Regions from separate parts of the Homo sapiens genome. Here regions 1 and 2 are each reported to be linked to region 3. The links are microRNA targets in miRTarBase. Many come from high-throughput screens and were not tested one by one. Region 3 holds a microRNA gene; each other region holds the end of a gene's coding sequence. Distances are from middle to middle.
Evidence for each region. Region 3 holds the annotated microRNA hsa-miR-4424 (AGAGUUAACUCAAAAUGGACUA, at 3,930-3,951, shown strand). A microRNA usually pairs through its seed, bases 2 to 8, with sites in the 3' UTR of a target mRNA and lowers its output. Matches are read on the target gene's strand: a 7mer-m8 pairs with bases 2 to 8, a 7mer-A1 pairs with bases 2 to 7 and ends in A, and an 8mer does both.

Region 1: the mRNA of SIKE1 is a reported target of hsa-miR-4424. Seed matches in the 3' UTR shown: 8mer at 829-836 and 7mer-A1 at 334-340.
Region 2: the mRNA of GRAMD1C is a reported target of hsa-miR-4424. Seed matches in the 3' UTR shown: 8mer at 2,095-2,102.

The regions. Positions count from the first base shown.
Region 1 is chr1:114,769,512-114,776,582 of GRCh38, forward strand. SIKE1 (suppressor of IKBKE 1) reads right to left here. Exons shown (of 5, transcript NM_025073.3): 4 at 6,835-6,948; 5 at 1-4,861. The coding sequence ends at 4,760. Among named protein-coding and RNA genes, the nearest start is that of SIKE1, 7.6 kb to the right of the region's middle.
Region 2 is chr3:113,944,378-113,951,448 of GRCh38, forward strand. GRAMD1C (GRAM domain containing 1C) reads left to right here. Exons shown (of 18, transcript NM_017577.5): 18 at 1,021-2,797. The coding sequence ends at 1,101. ZDHHC23 (zDHHC palmitoyltransferase 23) reads left to right here and starts at 3,636. Exons shown (of 5, transcript NM_001320466.2): 1 at 3,636-3,813; 2 at 4,309-4,586. The coding sequence starts at 4,426. RefSeq lists an enhancer at 3,054-3,554 and silencers at 3,269-3,768, 4,119-4,218.
Region 3 is chr1:178,673,834-178,680,904 of GRCh38, forward strand. MIR4424 (microRNA 4424) reads left to right here and starts at 3,916; the gene lies at 3,916-4,001.

The DNA of each region.
Region 1 (7,071 bases), 64 Mb from region 3:
TATGTATTCCTTAACAATATGTTGTATAACCCAACAATGAAATATACATCAATGAAAATGACAGCTATAAAACAATAAAACTTGTGAATTCTAGAGACATGTTGAGTGAAAAAAACCAAATCCTTAGACTACATAGAGTATGATACAATTTTTTTGAAGTTCAAAAAGAAAGAAAACTATAAAATAAGTCACTTTAGGGATACATATGTATTTTAGGTCTTTCTACATTCGAACAAATCTATTAAAAAGAGAGCGGGGGGGTCGGCAAAGATAGGAGAAGAGCTCAAATAGATAAAATACAAGCACTCATAATGTTATTCTTAAGTTAGGTGATGAGTTATTATGCTTGATAATTTATTTGCATTCCCCATTTACCCTTTTATAAGCATCAAATATTACATTTAAATATAAGTCCCAAATTATGTATAAAGTGTTGATAAAATTTATATCTGCATGGCTGTTCCTAAAACTATGCTTATTTTATCAAGCAGAGTTCTTGGTTTTAGGCAATTCAGGTTAGTTTTAATAACAGCAAAAAAATGATTTTATTAAAAGTAATTCTCAGGATCTCTAGGACAGCCAGCAAACAAGAATTAGAGGTTACAGGCCAGGCACAGTGGCTCACGCCTATAATCCCAGCACTTTGGGAGGCCAAGGCGGGCGGATCACCTGAAGTCATAAGTTCGAGACCAGCCTGGCCAACATGGAGAAACCCCATCTACTAAAAACACAAAAATTAGCTGTGCATGGTGGTGGGCACTTGTAATCCCAGCGACTTGGGAGGCTGAGGCAGGAGAATCGCTTGAACCCAGGAGGTGGAGGTTGCAGTGAGTTAAGACAGTGCTACTGCACTCCAGCCTGGTTGACAGAGCAAGACTGTCTCAAAAAATAAAAATAAAAAAATAGAATTAGAGGTTATCGCTAACTAAATCACTTTTGCTGTACCTCTGTGGAGATGAATGCAGTAGTGTTGTTAATCACCATCTTCAAAGGAATCTGCATGGTTCCCTCCTTCTTTGTATCACTAATTTTAAAATTGAAGGCAGATGTTTCTTCCTTAGCTGCAAAAGGAGGCTGAGAAAACATTACCTGGTACTTTCAAATTCTTTAGGAGGAAGAAATGCTCTGCCTCATTAGGTGAGGGATTCCTTAAACACAGGAGTTAGGATACTGGGCAGCCAAAAGAGAAATGACAGATGTCTGCTACAGCCCATTCTCTTGGCCATTCAATGTCAACACACTCCTTCAGCTAATTCTTCCAAAACTATATTCAAGGGGAAAGGACTTGACAATATAAAGTCACAGACATGTCACAGTCACAGACACTGTTAATTGCTTTCTCAATATTCTTTCTTCTTGCTAATACTGATTTTATTTGGGACAGCTATGTACCCTGCTTTCTTTGCAGGTACCAGTGGCCATTTAACTGGTCAGGCAATTAAGTCAAGGGAAAATCCATTTGGGATTTCTGAGAAAGCTTTGCTTTCCCTCATAAAAGGCGATATATATAGCTGGCACAGGCCATTTCCATTTTTTCTTCCTTGCCTTCAACATGGCCATGACATTTGGCTTGGCAACAACTTTCTAGCAAACACAAGAAAACAGCATGAGGGATGTAAGCCAATATGGTAAGGAGGCAGATTTGAAAGACAGAACTGCACCTTTTCCTGTATATAGTAAGAGTCACTGATTAAACATTATTCCTTTCAGTTGAATCACACATACTCTCAGCTACACCATTCTAGAAAATAATATCTCATTAGTTAAGACTCCATTTATTGAATTCATAATACTTTATAAGCTGTGGTGTTTCTTTTGCACTAATAAAAATAGATTTTGCTAATCAAGAACCACTTGAACTCCCAACAGTATTTGGCATTTAGGCATCTCAAGTTAGTTAGTGATTAAAAATGTGCTTAAGACTCTGTCTGGGTTTGAATCTTGGTTCCAGTTTGGACAAATAACCACCTCCTTGTGCCTGAGTATCTGCAAAATGAGGTACAGTTAAAATGGAGTTTATATAATACAGTACCTGACAGGTAGTAAAGCACTCAATAGATGGTAGCTATTATTGGCAATACCATACATACTTTGCTTTTGTGGCACCAAAGTTTTCTATTTCCCTCCTACCCATTTATTATCTCTATTGAATTCTCAAGTTTAAAGTCCCTCTTCTGTATCTTATACATACTATAATGGATTTATCACACTGCATTATAATTTTATATATATACTTGTCTCCTGTACCAGACTTTTTCATTTTTAAATTCATAAGTACTAATGAAGTGGTTGGCACATAGACTATTTTCTTTTTCATCTTTTAGAGTGCTAACTATTACACAATGGGGCCTAGACTAGATATTTTAAAATCAGTGTCTTTAGGAATTGTTTGAGATGATTAGAATACAAATTCTTGAACTTCATCACCAAGTTTCTATTTCAGTAGGTCAGGGAAGCACATTTTGAAGAACACTAAAATAGACCTTCAATGTTTGAATCCAATTATGCATAAGGTATTAATATAAGAATTATACATAAGATATTGATATAATACTACACTAATATAAGGTACTATTTGTAGAGTTATACACTGCTGAATATACTGTGCTAATTACAAAGTATTTATGACTCTTGTGAGGACCACTTGACAAGGTTGCTATATATATGTAAAAAAACCCTCTGCACTTCCTCATTTGACTTACTACTGAGTAAAATTAGCTTATCTTCTCAAAATGCAGTTTTTGTTAGAAAATATAATTTTGAACTAAGATTTTTGCAAACCAGGCAAGTTCTTCATCCACTCAAGGAGAAACTTTAAAATCCACTTAAAATGAAGAGCATTCCTCCCCGACTCAATTTTCTAACTACATATTATCTTCATAGCATTAACACCAGCCAGAATTTATATTATGTAGAGCACTAAAAGCTTCTTAGACTTGTACCTCAGGCTTTTAATTTTGCAGGGGGAAAAGTTAGTATGTCGATTTATCCTAACACTTGAGATATAAAGAACTTTATAAACAGCTCTAAAGGAACATAAAGCACATAAAGGGACACCATATTATACCTTGATTTGATTACTTCATCATTTTCACTGAAATCTGGCCATGGTAGGTTTGGCCGTGGCTGCCAAATGGTATAGAGTACCTGCCTCTTGAATGGATTTATGGGGTCACTTAAGGTATACTTCGAGGCAGATGGCTGGGCTAATAGTTACTTACTTACTCTTGGGAAATGAAATAAAAAATGCTCACACTTGGAAGTGTTTTTTTTGTCAAATTCTATGCAGGATATCAAACAGAAATTTGAAAAATTCTTAAATGACATATACCTATTCATTAACACCCACTGCTCTAGATGACATCCATTAGTTATTACTGGGATCAGATGCTTTTAGGACATCTTTAAAATATTTTGTTATTTTAACTGTAGTTCTTTATAGCATTACGAAAGAAATATCACTCACATAAAGCACTAACAACTCTTTTTAGTACTGTGTCTCTCCCATGCAGTATGGTGCTTAATGTTACTGGAAAATATTGACAGGTTTAGCATTATTTCAACTAATTCTGGGCAAATCTAAATAGAATAGTATAACATGAAGAAATTTATAAATTTGAAATGTGAGTAAACTGGGACGGGAATGAGTTGATGAGTGAACCCAGTTGACCACTGGGCATTTGAATCTCAATGTTGCCTACACAGCATTATGAGTGTAATAATTTTCATTAGGTAACAAAACTGCTTCCTCACCTTTTTATATAGCTTAAACAAAAAAAAAGAAAAAAGATAAAAAAAAACCCTGCTTCTATGTAAACAAAAAAAAAGAAAGCCAACTATTAGTGCTAGGAATGAAAGACATCCAATCCAAGTAAGTGATGGTTCTTAACTATAAAATGGAAATTGTATAAAAATTAAAATAGAATGTAGAACTAGTAGGATAACATTGAAAAACTGACTACTTATATTTGTTTTTTTTATTTTGTGTGTGTTTTTGGCTGATTATATTTAATAAAAGCTACTTTTAGTATTTGAACTAAGTGCACATGTGTGCATTCACATACACAGGACAAGCTCCTCAGCTTTGAACAATATGAACTTTGGACAATATGACAACTATAGCATCACTGGGCAAAAAAAATAGCTGACTTATTTCCAAGTGTGTTTCCTGGGACTAGCAGTAGGTTCTCTCAAATTAAAAGTAAAGGCACCAGGCTATAAAGTGCCAATTCTTAGCACCAGAGAGACTTAAAATGTCACAGGTGAATGACATTACAAATCAGAGAATCTGCTGATCTAGTTCTGTGGAATTGTATTATTTTTGTCAAATGGAAAAAAAAAATCAAGGTTTATGCCAAATAGATTTAAACAGTTAAATCTTTCCTAAAATTTCCTAGAAGTGTATTTTACAATGCTATGTAAAATAAATTGCTGGCTTATAAAAAATGCTCAAAGTTTCAGAGATGTGAAAAATAACAAAGAACTGAAAACATAGTTTATATAAATCAAGGTCCCAGAAATGAAAATTAAAAGTAGTCTCTTTGAGAAAGGAATGGTGAAATTCAGCATGTAGTATTCACATTAACACATCTGAGAACTGTGGACAGCCAATATTGACTGGAATTCTAAATTGCCACCTGATACCTTTAATTAAGATTAAATCAAATCTGAGGCAAGACACTTAATGGACAGTACTTGAATGGGAAGACAGTAACTTCCTTCCTTGATAGACAATCTCCAGCCATCATTCAGAGTTCAGTTATTTGATGGCTTGGGAAGCAGTGTCCATTGAGTTTTCCTTTCTGGCTTGAAGAGACTCACTGCTGATGGACAATAATTCTCGAAGTTCCTTATTTTCAAGCTGGAAAAAAAAAGGCATGTTTATTTCTGGTATTTTTACTGTCCAACTGCATTACAACAACACATTATTTTGAGCCAGGAGCAGAAAACATTATTTTAATTTTAAAAAATTTATGGAAACAAAAAATCCACTAGTTGAGAATTTCCTTAAATACTACTTTATTCATTTAACAAACATTTACATGTAGGATGTAGGCAATGATACTCTTTTGTAGTAGTAATTTACTGAGTAATTTCTATATACCAAGTGTTAGGATTACAAAGGAGAAACAAAAAACAAGGTCCTCTCCATTTAAGGAATTCACTGTTATATTCTTCTTGGTTCCCACAGTTTTACTATTATTTCTTTTATTTAAAAAATTCCTAATAATCGTTTCACTCTGATTAATCTCCTCTCCTGGATATCTTACAGTTCTAGAGAAATGGAAGGAAAGGGGGAAAGAAATTACTTATTGAGCATGTAGCTGGGTACTACTTGGGTGCCCTGTATATGTTATCTCACAATAATCTGTAGGGTAGGTATCATTGCCTACATCCATATATTTCAGATGAGGATACTCTGGCTCACAAAATTCCTAAAAGTTGTCCAAATTCAGACAACTTGGATGTGGTATTGCTGGGGTCTGAATCTGGTGGTCGTGTATTTTCTACTTGAAGTATTAAGGTAGAATTTGCCCCACATTTCCTTAGGGCTGTTTCCGTAAGTGAGGTAAATCGGGGATAAATAGAAGGTCATGCTATCATTTCACTAGCTCCTAATTCCTACTTGGGACCTGTCACTACCTTTGATTTCTAGAGAGGGTAGCTTCTGCTCTTCATCCTTATCCTCTGCAGAAAACTCTGGTAAACCAAAGCATTTTTAGCTTCACCAAGATGTGCGGAAGTCCCAGCTAGAGTAACTAAGAGATTAGAGCCTGTGGTCGACGAATCTTCTACCACATGAAGTGCTTCCTTCGGTATTTGTATCTGTCTCCTAGCATTTACATATTATTTAATATCATATAATACTAGGGTTATCCCTTCCACTAGACTCTGGGCAGGTATCTGTTTTTTTCTCTCTGGTATTTCTCAAAGGCCCCAGGACAGCACCTTGTAATAAGCAGCATTCAAACCATTCACTGAAATGCTTTGCTTTTTTTTTTTTTTTTTTGAGACAGGGTCTCACTCTGTCACTCGGTTGGAGTGCAGTGGCATGCATGATCGTGGCTCACTGCAGCCTTGACTTCCCAGGTTCAGGTGATCCTCACACCTCAGCCTCTGAGTACCTGGGATTACAGGTGTGCACCACCACACCTGGCTAATTTTCTGTATTTTTTGTAAAGACAGGGTTCCGCCATGTTGCCCAAGCTGCTCTTGAACTCTTGGGCTCAAGCAATTCACTTACCTCAGCCTCTCAAAGTTGAAATGTTTTTCCTTAACAATTTTATGAGCACACTAATACCCCGAACTTTTTTTGTAACATATTCCTATTCTAATCAAAATATGACATAAACATAGCTTTTAAGAAATCAAGACTACAAGGCTTATACAAGCAGTTCTTTGGCTTTGTACCCCAAATGCAACCACTTTTAACACTTTTATCTATTTCTTTTGGTATTTAATTCTGTAATTCTAAATAATATGCTTATACTGCTATTTCCTGATCATCAATTTTAGACATTATCTACTTCACTTCTTATTATGGCAGATGAAGGATTTTATCTCACATATAACTTCTCCCCTCCACTCCCTCTACCTTCCCATATGATAATACCTCAAGTTCTTGCCAATACATAGTTGGTATTTCCATTGATTGCTGTTTACTATATTTCCTTTCTTCAAAAGGGTATAAAAGGGTATGAAGGAGGAGTTTTAATTTTAAATCATGAGCACACAGAAAACATCAATATATTACAGTGATGGGATAGTGATGGCATATCTTCCAGACTCGGAAAACTATGAAATACTGTGAACCTAAATTAGCTACAATCTTACCTCTAATTGGGCTAATTTTTCCTGAATCTTACAAAACTGGTCATCATCCACCTGAACTGCTTTCCTCATCACTTCTCCCATTTCACAGATTCTGTCAATCTGACTCTCAATTTCCTGTGAAGATATTAAGGAAACAAAGGTGGAAAAATCACCTGTTCTGTAGATATAAAGAACGTAAAAGCATGTGCATTACGATTTTTAAAAGTTCATTTAATCTATGATACAGAAGTTACAATG
Region 2 (7,071 bases), not on the chromosome of region 3:
GAAGGGGACACAAATGTTCAGATAGCAGCAACTCCCAAGTCCGTATCTCTCACCTCGACCTGAGCTCTAGACTCATACAGTCACTTGCCTACTTGGCATCTTCACCTGGATGACTAACAGGATTCCCAAACTGATTATGTCCAAAACAGAAGTCAATTTTCCTCTAATCCAAAACCTAATTCTCTAGTGGGTCTCATTTCAGAAAATGATGCTACCATCCACCAGCTGCTCAAGTCAAAAACTTAATAAAATATCTAAGTATATATTTATGTATGTGATTATTTGTTTTATTAATAGTTCTGGATCCCTGACTAGTCTGTAAGCTCCATGAAGGACAGGACAGTGCCTATTTGGTTCTCCATTGTATATCCAGTGCTTAGAACACTGCCCAACATGTGATAGGCAAGCAACAAATATTTGTTGAATGAATACAAAAAAAGAGTAAGACATAATTCCTGCTCTTGAGTTGCACACAATTTTCTTAGAGAAATGAGATGTCCAGGTGTATTGTTAATGACAAAGATTACAAAATTCAGTGTCAAAGTGTTAAGTAGTAAGGATAATGCTTTGGGAGTTTATAGGCAGAATGACTGGGGAAAACTACATGAAGAGTGTGAATATGAGTAAGTTTTAGGTGAAGAACATGAGGATGAGAGCATGCAAAGGCACTGAAGCAAACTTGAGTTGTTTAGGGGATAGTGAGGAGACCACTGCAACTTCAGAAATCTTTTAGGAAAACGAGTCTGTCACTACGCTTAATTTGATTAATGGACCTATTGGGAGGTAGACTATGTAGCAGTAGGAAGAAGTACAATACTCCAGCAAATGGGAAGAACTCTGTAGCAATCATACTGATAGATACCCCAAAGAATCAGGTATTTTGTATTTAACGTTTTATTTGGGCATCAGTATAAACAAAACTATATTAAGTGTCACTGTAAATTTTGGGCATAAAAAACAGAAATTTTCAAATCTGATTAGAAAAATTAATCTGATTTTGAAAATTAACTTTGTTTACAGCTGAAGAGCTCACTCATTATGCTTCAGAAAACGTTTGATCTACTAAATAAGAATAAGACTGGCATGGCTGTTGAAAGCTAGTGATCTGAAGGACTAAAACCGCAGAGATACTTGGAACTTAAAGAAAATACCTGGAAGAAAACCAGACGAATGAAGGATTTTGGCATAGAACATTTCTATGTTTTTTCATTATTGAGATTTCTAATATGAACATTTCTTTCAGTAACATTTATTTGATAATTAGTTTCTGCTGGCCTTAATAATCCATCCTTTCACTTCTTATAGATATTTTTAAGCTGTGAATTTCTTCAGTGAACCATGAAATATATTATAGAACTGAATTTCTCTGATACAAAAAGAAAATGACACACCCTGAATTGAGTGGTATGGTCTCATTTCTACAGTGAAGTCTGATGCTTTGTTAGCACAGAATCCGTACATGTCCAATAGGTCGCTTTTGTAACTGAGATAAGACCAAGAGGATAAACAGGACAATATAAGAAGAAACCTCTATGTCATTACTGATTTTAAAGGTTCTGTTTTCAGGCATATAACATTTCCAGGTTTGTGTACTGTAAAGATTATAATGTCTTCATTTATTTAGCATGCAAATTTAATAGTCAAACTTTTTGAATCTGCATGTTGATGATGATTATCAGAAAGGGTCTTCTGCCATGCTGTATCTTTATGAAAGAAATAGTTGTTTTTTCTTAAGGTAACTATCAGAGGTGGGATTATCTTGCCTCCTCACTTAGAATACCAACAGTCAAAAGGAAGAACCATCCTCTGAGTTTTAAAAACCAGAAGGTTATGTTAAAATCTGGGCATTTAGTGACAGATCAAATGCATACTTGAACTAAGATTGGCTTCAGCTTAGCAGTCTTTCATGGTGGAAGTGACACATCTGGTTGAAAATAATTTGTGTATTTTCAGTAACCATGTATGGCTTCCTTCTTTATGTATGTGTGTGACTTGTTTTGATTGGTAAGTTATAAGCCAGACATAGATTTTAGCTCTTTAATAAAAACTTCAGGGGCACGTATGTCCCAGTACAAGTGTACTGACTATCAAGTTTTAACTCAGATGCAAGCTTTGGCTCTTTCATAAAAAGTTTTTATGCATATGTGTCTCCATACAAGTGGCTCATTAAAATAAGAACTTTGTAAACTGACTTAAAATCAGATATTTTTTCAAGAGTTAGGGAAAGTTGAAGTGTTTTACTGTTTTGTCTCTTGAGCCCTTTCTCTGGGGAAAAAATACATATCCATCTATCTATCTATATATAAACTGTGTATACATTCTTACTGTTTGAACAACTATTGCCTTTAATTAAATGTTTCATTTTTCTCCAGAGTCCCCAAAGCCACATGGCATTATTATAGTCATTTTTGAGATGCCTGTAGAGAATGAAAGTATTGACTCCGTTAGAGGGAAAATGGGTTTCTCTGGGTGAATTCCAACGAAGCATACCTAGGGGTAACAGTGAACCTACCTGGGTTTGTTTTGTTTTGGTAAGGATTTATGTAGTGTCTGGCTGTAAGCAAGAATGAGTGGATTATAAACTTGAAGATTTCTCTGTTAAAGTCACAAAAATGATCGACAAACAATATTTTTGTGATGTTTATTTAAACGTTGTATTTTATAACATACTTCAAGGAAGAGTATCGAAGTAAGTTGCTTTATAAATTAAGACTAAATTCGTATGGATGCAGAATTCAATTAATAAAATTTGAGCCTGTTACGTAAATTGAATATTAATAAAATTGAAAATTTCTGAGTTGTAGTTTTTCTTCTTTTTCTACTTAAAAACAAAACTAGAAAGCCTGCGGTAGTGAAACGTGTACATGGGCCCACACTCTTTAAAGAAATTTTGTGCAATAATAAAACCCAAAAAGGACTCTCATCTCAGGGCAGTTTCATCTCAAATACACAGACGACTGGAACAAAAGTACTAGCGAGGCCTGCTGGTCCAATGTAAAGGCTGCTAGCCAGAAATCATGAAACGAACAGGTTGCTAAATGAACAGATCCGGCAGCAGTGATGGGCCTTTAAGAGAAGGTCAGCGAAACTGGGGGAGGTACTTGGATAACATTTTGCGGTGGAAAGCTCCCTCACCGCCTGTTGCCGGAGTCTGAATGAAGGCTGGCGGCTCCACGGTCTCACGTAGTTCGGAAATCCTCCGGGTTCCCGGGTTTCCCGTATTTCCGTCTCCGCACCTCGTCCGCACCCCGGGGCTCCGGAGGCTGTCCCACCGGCGCGCCGCCCGCAGGCACCGGCGGCGCCCGGCTGCCGCCTCTGGGGCGGGGCGGGGCGTGGCGTGGCGGGGCAGGCCGGAGGTGCGGGACCCACCTCCTGCCCCTGCCTCCTGGACGCGCTCTCGGGAGCCGATTTTCCCCTTCCCGGCGCCAGGGCCGCGGGCCAGGAGGAGGAGCCTCGCCCGCGGGCACCGCGGGGAGGCGGGCGGCGCACGTGCGGACAGGCGGGGAACCCCGGCGCCGGGGGCGGGGCACCCGGAAGCGCGCGTGGACCTGGCGCACCGAGCCGGGCGGGCGGAGGGGCGGTTGGGACGGCGCGGGGAGGCGGGCGCGCCGCCCGGGCCGCGGCGGGCTGTGGTCACAGGTGGGCGGCTGCGGCGAGGGAGCGGCCGAGCGGAGCCCGGGTCCCGGAGACTCCTGCCGTCACGCCCGGGGCTCCGCGTAGCAGAGATCGGGAGACGCGTCTGTGCCTCCGGGGAAGCCGACCCATCTCCCCTCCGCCTCTTTGGCTGCAGTTGCACCTCCGGCCAGAGGGCAGGTAACTTCCCTTCCAAGGTCATTCTCCTGGCGGGGTGGTGCGCGAGGCCCGCCCACGTCCTCCGGATTGGCGGGGGCGGGAGAGGCGCACCCTGCAAGGGGCCCGACCAGTTGGGCTGGACCGCGACCCCTGAGCACTGCCAGGGAGCCTGGTGTGTCAGCCGCTGCTAGCGGGCATATGCTTCGCCTTTCCCTATAGCCCCGAGGCTGAGTTCCCACCAGCGCCCAGGCTTGGAGCGGAGACCGCTCGGCCCTCCCAGCCTGCACCCGCAGGTGAGCGCAACCGCCCGCGCCCCGGCTGTCCCGGACGCGTGGTCGGCTGTCGCCATAGGAACGGCTGGTGCCCAGACGGCGCCTGCCCAGGCTGGGAAGGGGCGGTGAAGGCAGCTCAGACCTCCAAGAACCCTGGAGCCCCCTGTGTGGCCAGGCGGAGCCACAGAAGCCTGATGAAAACGGGACCCCCTCCCCCTCTCTCTTCTCATTTTTGATTGCTCAGGCGTTGGAGGTTAAGCAGAGAGAGAGAGGCGTGGACCTATTTACGAGATGTAAGTTGTGTTCTTTCCACCTTTACCTTCTGAGGGCTTCTTACGCCTCATGGTGACAGGTGCAAATCATGACACAGAAGGGCAGTATGAAGCCTGTGAAGAAAAAGAAAACCGAAGAACCTGAATTGGAGCCCCTGTGCTGCTGCGAGTACATAGATCGGAATGGGGAAAAGAACCACGTGGCTACTTGTTTGTGTGATTGTCAAGATCTGGATGAAGGGTGTGATCGGTAAGAACAGAGCATTTCTTGACGCTGGCCCCATCACCCTTCTGAGAACTGCCATGTGTACTTTCAACCTAGCCACCCAGAATGCTAGAATTTGCTCTTGATTCTATTTCCAAGCATCTAAAATGAGAGTTGGCTTCTGTGTCAAGTGTGAGGATTTTAGAAAGATGGATTACGCAGTAGTGCACAGCTGTCTGTCTGCTCTGTTTTATAGGATATTATTTTTCGTTTAAAGAGAGATGAGGGAGAGAACAGGCAGTTTAAAGGGATAGTAGGCAAGTTAGTATAAAATAAAATGCAAGCCAGCAGAATCTGTAAGTTTAAAATGAACACAATAGTTCCAGAAAGTTCCTGCCTTCTCAGAGGTCTCAGCATTTAGAGACTGACTACTTGGGACTGGGTGGCACCTGACCACAGAGGGCCTTGTGGGTTGAAATTTCATTTTCCTGCTGTTAGTACTGGTCTTGCCCCTTGTTTCTGGGGAGGAACTCCAGCCAGAAGGCATGTATCTCCCCTGGATTCACAGTTTTCAGTGCGACCAGCAACACTCTTGATTGATCATACTGTATTTGGCTTTTATTTTCCAAGTGATGGAAATTACTATCCAAAAAGAGAATTTTTAACATCACTGAAAAAATTTGGTGTCGGACAGTGAATAATCTGGTTTTAATCCATTTTCTGAGTAATTATATATTTAAAAATCACTGTCAATGGAAGTCATAATGTGGGAAGGATAGGGATGTTGGAAACTTGCTTTTCCCATTAATAATTATTTCTGGTTAAAAAAGTCATTGCAACTGCCAATTTGTTGACTTAGAACTTGATACATTAATACAGCCATGAAAAGCATTCCCTGGGGTCTGCAGTCTAGTACCAGCCTTGACTATTAAAAACCCAGTGAACCCTTTGTCGTTCTTACTTGACAGTGTACTGTGTAGTCTTTTTTATGGATGTCTTTGAATATAGGTTCTTTAGATTTAGTCTGAAATCTATACTGAGAAAATAGAGCACTTTGCACTAATGAATGGAGAAATGATGCTGTTTCCATAACCACCATCACTCAAGACCGCAGCTCTTCCATTAACCTTGCTAACTCTTCCTCCCTCCTAGCCCTGGAGACCTTGGCTGTCCCCTGAGGCATCTCCTCTGCTCTCTCTGTACCCCTCTCCTCTGTGTTTCCACCGTGCCTGCTGCTCTGTATGATTCCCAATTAGTTATCTCTAAGTTCTAGTCTTACCTTTAAAAATTGTCTAAAATCAAAGTTACCTTTCCTTAAACTCTACCTTTTCTTACTAGCCTGTCTTAATTTGTTCAGGCTGCTATGATAAAATAAATACCTGAGACTGGGTAATTTGTAAACAATATACATCTATTGCTCACAGTTCTAGAGGCTCAGAAATCCAAGATCAAGGCACTGGCAGATTCAGTGTCTGGTGAGGGCCCTTTTCCTCATAGATGACACCTTCTTGGTGTGTCATGACATGGCAGAAGGGGTGAATAAGCTCATAGGGCTCTATTATAAGGGCACAAGTCTCATTCATGAGGGCTGTGCCTTCATGACCTAATCACCTCCTTAAGGTCTCACCTCTGAATACTATTGCATTGGGAATGAGGTTTCAACATAATGAACTTTGGAGGGACACAGATACTTCCTGGCTCCCTAAAATTTATGTCCTTCTCACATGCAAAATACACTGATTTCATCCTAATAGCCCCAAAAGTCTTAGCTCATCCCAGTGTCAATTCAGAAGTCTAAGTCCAGAGTCTGGTCTGAATATCATCATCCAAATCAGATATGGATGAGTTTCAAGATACGATTCATCCTGAGACAAGTTCTCCTCCACATGTGAGCCTGTGAAATCAAACAAGTTAGGTGCTTCCACAATACGATGGTAGGACATGCATAGAATAGACATTCCCATTCCAAAAGGGAACAACAGGAAGAAAGGAGTGTTACTGACAGGTCCTAACCCAGTGGGGCAAACAATGTTAAGCCTTAATAAGGCTTGAGAATAATCTTGGACTTGATGTCCTGCCTTCTGGACACACTGGGTTGGCGGTTGGGCCCCCAAGGCTCTGGGTGTCCCCGCCACCACAGCTTTGTTGCGCACAGCCCACACTGCAGCTCTCATGGGTTGGAGTTCCTACAGGTGCCTCCAGCTCTCCCAGGCTGGAGTTGTATGCTTGTGGCTCTACGGGGCTCTTGGGGGTGACCCTGTCCCCACAGCTCCAAGCAGGCATTGCCTCAGTGGGGTCTCTCTGTAGTGGCCCCACCACAATGACAGCTCCACTGGGCAGTGCCCTAGTGGGGGCTCTCTGTGGTGGCCCCACCCCTGTGGCAGTCCTCTGCCTCGGTCCCGAGGCTCTCCAGGGCATCCTTTGAAGTCTAGGTGGAGGCAGCCAGGCCTCTACAGCTCCTACACTCTGGATGCCTGCAGCATTGGCACCCTGTGGATGCCACCAAGATTTACCACCTATGCCCTTCAGA
Region 3 (7,071 bases):
TTGGTAGGCCAAGGCAGGCGGATCACCTGATGTCAGGAGTTTGAGACCAGCCTGACCAACATGGAGAAACCCCATCTCTACTAAAAATACAAAATTAGCTGGGCGTGGTGGCACATGCCTGTAATCCCAGCTACTCAGGAGACTGAGGCAGGAGAATGGCTTGAACCCGGGAAGCGGAGGTTGCAGTGAGCCGAGATCATGCCATTGTACTCCAGCCTGGGCAACAAGAGCAAAACTCCATCTCAAAAAATAAAAAAAAAAATTAAAAAATAAAACAAGACCAATAATATACTGACTACAATAGACTCACTTTAGCCTACATAGGCTAAAAGTGAATGGATGGGAAAATATATCCTTTGCAAATAGTAACCAAAAGAGAGCAGAAGTGGCTATACTTATATCAGCCAAAATAGACTTTCAGTCAAAATCTGTCACAAGAAACCAAGAAGGTCATTAAACAATGATAAAGGAGTCAATTCATCAAGAGAATATAAAAATTATAAATATATATGCACCCAATGTCAGAGAACCTAAACACATAAAGGAAATATTAACAAGACTAAAGAGAGAAATAGATAGCAATACAATAATAGGAGAATTCAGTATGCCACTGTTTTTTGTTTTTTTTTTTTAATTTTTTATTTTGAGACAGAGTCTTGCTCTGTCACCCAGGCTGGAGTGCAGTGGTGTGATCTCAGCTCACTGTAACCTCGGCCTCCCGAATTCAAGCAATTCTCATGCCTCAGCCTCCCAAGTAGCTGGGATTACAGAATTGTGCCACCATGCCCAGCTAATTTTGGTATTTTTAGTAGAGACAGGGTTTCACCATGTTGGCCAGGCTGGTCTCAAATTCCTGACCTCAGGTGATCTGCTTGCCTCGGCCTCTCAAAGTGCTGGGATTACAGGCATGAGCCACCATGCCTGGCCATATGCCACTTTCAACAATGGATAGATCATTCAGACAAAAAATCAATAAGGAAACAGTAGACTTGAATAATGCTATAAACCAAATGGACCTAACAGACACACATGGAACATTCCACTCAACAGCAGCAGATTTCACATTTTTCTCAAGAGCAATGGAATATTCTCTAGGATAGATCATATATTAGGCCATAGCACAAGTCTTAACAAATTAAAGAAGATTGAAATCACATCAAGTATCTTTCCTGAAATCAATAATATAGAACTATAAATTAATAACAAGGAAAATTGGAAAATTCACAAATAGTATTAATAGAAATTAAACAACATGCTCTTGAACAACCAGTGGGTCAAAGAAGATTTAAAAAACTGTCTTCAAACCAACAGAAATAGAAACATAACATACCAAACATGGGATGCAACAAAAGCAGTTCTAACAGAGGAATTTATAGAGATAAATACCTAAATTTTAAAAAGAAAGATCTCACAGCCAGGTGCAGTGGCTCATGCCTGTAACCCCAGCAGTTTGGGAGGTCGAGGTGGGCAGATCACTTGAGGTCAGGAGTTCATGGCCAACATGGTGAAACCCCATCCCTACTAAAAATACAAAAATTAGCCAGGCCTGGTGGCAGGCACCCTCAGGAGGCTGAGGCAGGAGAATTCCTTGAAGCCAGGAGGCAGAGGCTGCAGTGAGCTGAGACTGTGCGACTTTACTCTAGCCTGTGCAACAGAGTGAGACTCTGTCTCAAAAAAAAAAAAAGACAAACTAAGCCCAAAGTTAGCAGAAGGGAGAAAAATAACAAAAATTAGAGCAGAAGTAAATGAAATAGAGAACAGAAAGACAATTTAAAAGATCAAAGAAACTAAGAGTTGATTTTTTAAAAAGATAAACAAAATTGACAAACCTTTAGTAAACTAACCAAGAAAAAAAGAAAGATGACTCAAAAAATTACAATCAGAAATGACAAAAGAATAGTTACAACTGATACCACAAAAATACAAAAGATTAGGTGGATTCCACCAAACAGAGAAGAATAAACACCAATTCTTCTAAAACTTTTCTAAAAAAAAAAATCAAGAGGGAGGAACATTTCCAAACTCTTTTTACAAGGCCAGTATTACCCTTGCATCAAAGTTAGATAAGAACACTAAAAGAAAAGAAACTTACAGGCTTATACTGAACACAGATGGAAAAATTCTCAATAAAATTTTTGCAGGCTGAGGCCAGGCACAGTGGCTCACTTGGGGATGCCAAGGTGGGCAGATCACTTGAGGCCAAGAGTTTAGACCAGCCTGGCCAACATAGTGAAACCCGGTCTTTACTGAAAATACAAAAATTGGGCCAGGTGCGGTGACTCCCACCTGTAATCCCAGCACTTTGGGAGGCCGAGGTGGGTGGATCACCTGAAGTCAGGAGTTTGAGACTAGCCTGGCCAATATGGTGAAACCATGTCTCTACTAAAATTAGAAAAGTTAGCTGGGTGTGGTGGTGCACATCTGTAATCCCAGCTACTTGGGAGGCTGAAGCATGAGAATAGCTTGAGCCCAGGAGGCGGAGACTGCAGTGAGCCGAGATTGCATCACTACATTCCAGCCTGGGTGGCAGAGCAAGACTCTGTCTCAAAAAGCAAAACAAAACAAAAATTGGCTGGGCAAGGTGATGTATGCCTGAAGTCCCAGCTACTTGGGAGGTTGAGGCACAAGAATCACTTAAACCCGGGAGGCAGAGGTTGCAGTGAGCTGAGATTGCACAATGGCCCTCCAGCCCGGGTGACAGAGTGAGACTCTGTCTCAAAAAAAAATGTTAAATTAAAAAAATATATATTAACTGGCTGAATTCAACAGCACATTAAAAGGAGCATACACTATGATCAAGTGGAATTTATCCTTGGTATGTACGGATGGTTCAACATACACAAATCAATAAATGTAATAAACCACATTAACAGGATAAAGGTAAAAATCATATGATCATCTCAATTGATGCAGAGAAAGCATTTAACATCCTTTTATGATAAAAATTCTCTACAAATTAGGTATAGAAGGAAGGTACCTCAACATAATAAAGGCCATATATTACAAACACACAGGTAACATCATATTCACTGGTGGAAAACTGATAGCTTCCTTTCTAAGATCAAGAACAAGACAAGGATGCCTACTCTCGCTACTTCTATTTAACATAGTACTGGAAGTTCTAGCCAGAGCAATTAAGCAAGAAAAAGAAGTAACAGCCATCCAAATAGGAAAGGAAGAAGTGAAATTGTCTCTGTTTGCAGATGACATGATCTTATATGTGGCAGACCCTAAAGACTCCTCCAAAACAACTGTTGGAAATAATTTTAAAATTCAGTAAAGTGCCAGGATACAAAATCATCATACAAAAATCAGTTGCATTTCTATACACTAATAACAAACTATCTGAAAAAGAAGAAAACAATCCCATTTACAATAGCATGAGAAAAAATAAAATACTTAAACCAAGGAAGTGAAAGATTTGTACACGGAAAATTATGACATTGATGACAGAAATGAAAGAAGACACAAATAAAATGGAAAGATAGAAATTCTGTGTTCACGGACTGGAAGAATTCATATTGTTAAGATAGCCATACTACCCAAAGTGCTCTACAGATTCAATGCAATCTCAATGAAATTCCAATGACATTTTTCACAGAAATAGAAAAAAACTATCTGAATATTTATGTGGAACCATGAAAGACCCCGAATGGCCAAAGAGAACAAAGGTAGAGGCACACATTTCTTGATTTCAAATAATATTACAAAACTATAGGAATCAACAGTATGGCAATGGCATAAAAACAGACACATAGACCAATAGAGAGCCCAGGAAAAACTACATGCATATATAGTCAACTAATCTTTAATAAAGGCACTAAGAATACATAATAGGGAAAGGATCATCTCTTCAATAAATGGCATGAGGAAAACTGAATATTCTCATGCAAAATAATGAAATTGGACCATTATCTTACATCACACACAGAGTTAACTCAAAATGGACTAATTTTTCCACTAGTTAGTCCATTTCAAGTTAACTCTGTGTGTGATGTAGTCTAGAAACTCTGGAGGCTGAGGTAGGAGAATCACTTGAACCTGGGAGGTGGAGGTTGCAGTGAGCCAAGATCACACCAATGCACTCCAGCCTGGGTGACAGAGCAAGACTCCATCAAAAAAAAAAAAAAAATTACAAAAATTTGTAAGGCATGATGGTGGGAAGCTGAGGTGGGAGGATGGCTTGAGCCTGGGAGAAGGAGGTTGCAGGCCAGGCACAGTGGCTCACACCTATAATCCTAGCACTTTGGGAGACCAAGGTGGGCAGATCACTTGAAGTTAGGAGTTCAAGATCAGCCCAGCCAACATGGTGAAATGATGTTTCTACTAAAAATCCAAAAAAAAAAAAAAGTATCCAGGTATGGTGATGCACACCTGTAATCCTAGCTACTTGGGAGGCTGAGAGGGGAGGATTGCTTGAACCTGGGAGGTGAGGGTTGCAGTGAGCAGAGATCGCGCCATTGCACACTCCAGTCTGAGAGACAGAGAGATACTCTGTTTCAACAAAAAAGAAAGAAAGAAAGTCAAGCTATTGGAGAAACTGGACAGCAGTGTAAGTGTGAAATGTCTTATAGAAGAGTATTGTGTTGGAATGGCCACCATATAAGACCTGAAGAAACAGAAGGATAAGCTGTTGAAGTTCTATGCTTAAAGTGATGAATAGAAGTTATGAAAAATGGAAAAGCATAAAGCTAAAAATGAAGATCTCGATTATGTATTGAAAGAGTGGATCTGTCAGCATTGCAGTGAACACATGCCACTTAATGGTATGCTGATCATGAAACAAGCAAACATCTATCACAGTGAACTGAAAATTGGAGGGAGCTGTGAATATTCAATAGGCTGGTTGCAGAAATTTTTAAAAAGATATGGTATTAAATTTTTGAAGTTTTTTTGTGGTAAAGCATCTGCTCATCACAAAGCAGTAGAGAAATTCATTGATGAATTTGTCAAGGTCATCACTGATGAAAATCTGATGCCAGAACAAGCTTGTAATTGTCTAAGTACATTTTGTGTTGCTATAAAGGAATGCCTGAGGCTGGGGAATTTACAAAGTAAAGAGGTTTATTTGGCTCATGGGTCTTCAGGCTGCACAAAAAATACGGTGCCAGCATCTGCTTCTGGTGAGGCCCTCAGATTGCTTCCACTCATAGTGGAAAGTGAAGCGAGAGCCATCTTGTGCAGAAATCACATGGCAAGAGAAGAAGCAGGGGTTGGGGAGGTCCCAGGCTCTTTTTAACAATCAGCTCTCTCTAATAGAGTGAGAACCCACTCATGCCTCCTCCCCTCAGGGAAGCCATGAATCTATTTACCAGGGATCTGCAAACCCCCGCCCCACACTGCCCGATTCAAACACCTCCCATTAGTTCCCACCTCCAACACTGGTGATCAAACTTCAACATAAGATTTGGAGGGGACAAACATCCAAACTATAGCAATAATGCTAATGAGACATCGCTATTTTGGCATTGTTGCCCCAGAAAGACACTGACCACTGCTAATCGGACAGCTCCTACAGGAATTAAGGATGCCAAGGACAGAATAACTATGCTGGGATGTTCCAATGCAGCATGTATGCATAAGTTACATAAGTGTAAACTTGCTGAGGTAGGGAAAAGCTTGCATCCTCACTGTTTCCAAAAAGTGAATTTCATACCAATCTATGATTATATTAAGAAAAAGGCATGGATCACCAGGAATATCTTTTCTGATTGATTTCACAAACATTTTGTACCAGTGGCATGTGCTCACTGCTGGGAAGCTGGGCTGGATGGCAATTGGAAGATTTCATTATTCCTTGACAACTGTTATGCTCATTCTCATCCGCCAGCTGAAATTCTCACCAAAAATAATGTTTATGCCACGTACTTTCCCCCAAATGTGACTCCATTATTTCAACCACATGACCAGGGAATTCTTAGATAAGAGTAAATATAAAAACACTTTCTTAAACAGCATTCTAACAGCAGTGGACAGAGGTGTGGGTGTGGAAGGTTTTCAAAAGGAGTTTAGCTATGTATACTATATATGCTTTTGCAATGCTTGGCACACAGTGACTAAAGTCACTGGCCTGGCATAACCTGTGTCCTACAACTATGTTCAGTGATGATGATAAACAAGATGGTGACTCTAAAGGATTCCATATGTCAAGTTAGAATAAAATGATGCCTGACCTCCTTACATATGCAAAAAATATACTTTTGGAGTCTCTAAGTAAGCTGGAAGAAGTGAATATTGAAGACTTTTTAACATCAATACCGAGGCTCCAGTTGTTCATTCACAGATTTATGGTAAAATAGCGAAAATGGTTCTGAATCAAGGTGATTGTGATCATAGTGATGACGAAGATGATGTTGTTAACACTGCAGAAAAAGTGCCTACAGATGACATGGTGCAAATGTGTGATGAGCTTATTGAAGGATTTGAGCAGTGTGCATTCATAATAGAACAAGAAATCATGTCTGTTTATAAAATCAAGAGAGACTTCTAAGGCAAAAACCATGGTCAATGAAGCAGATTAATCTGGAGGAAACACTTTAAAAAGCCAGCAGATGCCCCCTCATCCCTAGAGGACCCACTTCCTGGTCCTTCAACTTCTTTTGATGTTTCTTCTCACCTAAAAAAAAGAAATACAGGCTGGGCGTGGTGGCTCACGCCTGTAATCCCAGCACTTTGGGAGGCCAAGGTGGGTGGATCACCTGAGGTCGGGAGTTTGAGACCTGACCAACATGGAGAAACCCCGTCTCTACTAAAAATACAAAATTAGCTGGGCGTGGTGGCACACCTGTAATCCCAGCTACTTGGGAGGCTGAGGCAGGAGAATCGCTTGAACCCGGGAGGCGGAGGTTGTGGTGAGCTGAGATCGCGCCGTTGCCCTCCAGCCTGGGCAACAATAGCGAAACTCTGTCTCAAAAAAAAAAAGAAAGAAAGAAAAAGAAAAAGAAATACAGTGTAAAGTTGTAACTTTTTAATTGAAACGCAGCATTGTAGACAGAGAAGCAAAAACATTTGCTTCCTTTGTCGTTACCATTGTTTCACAGCTGATACAGGTATTCTGGCGATGCCACTGTG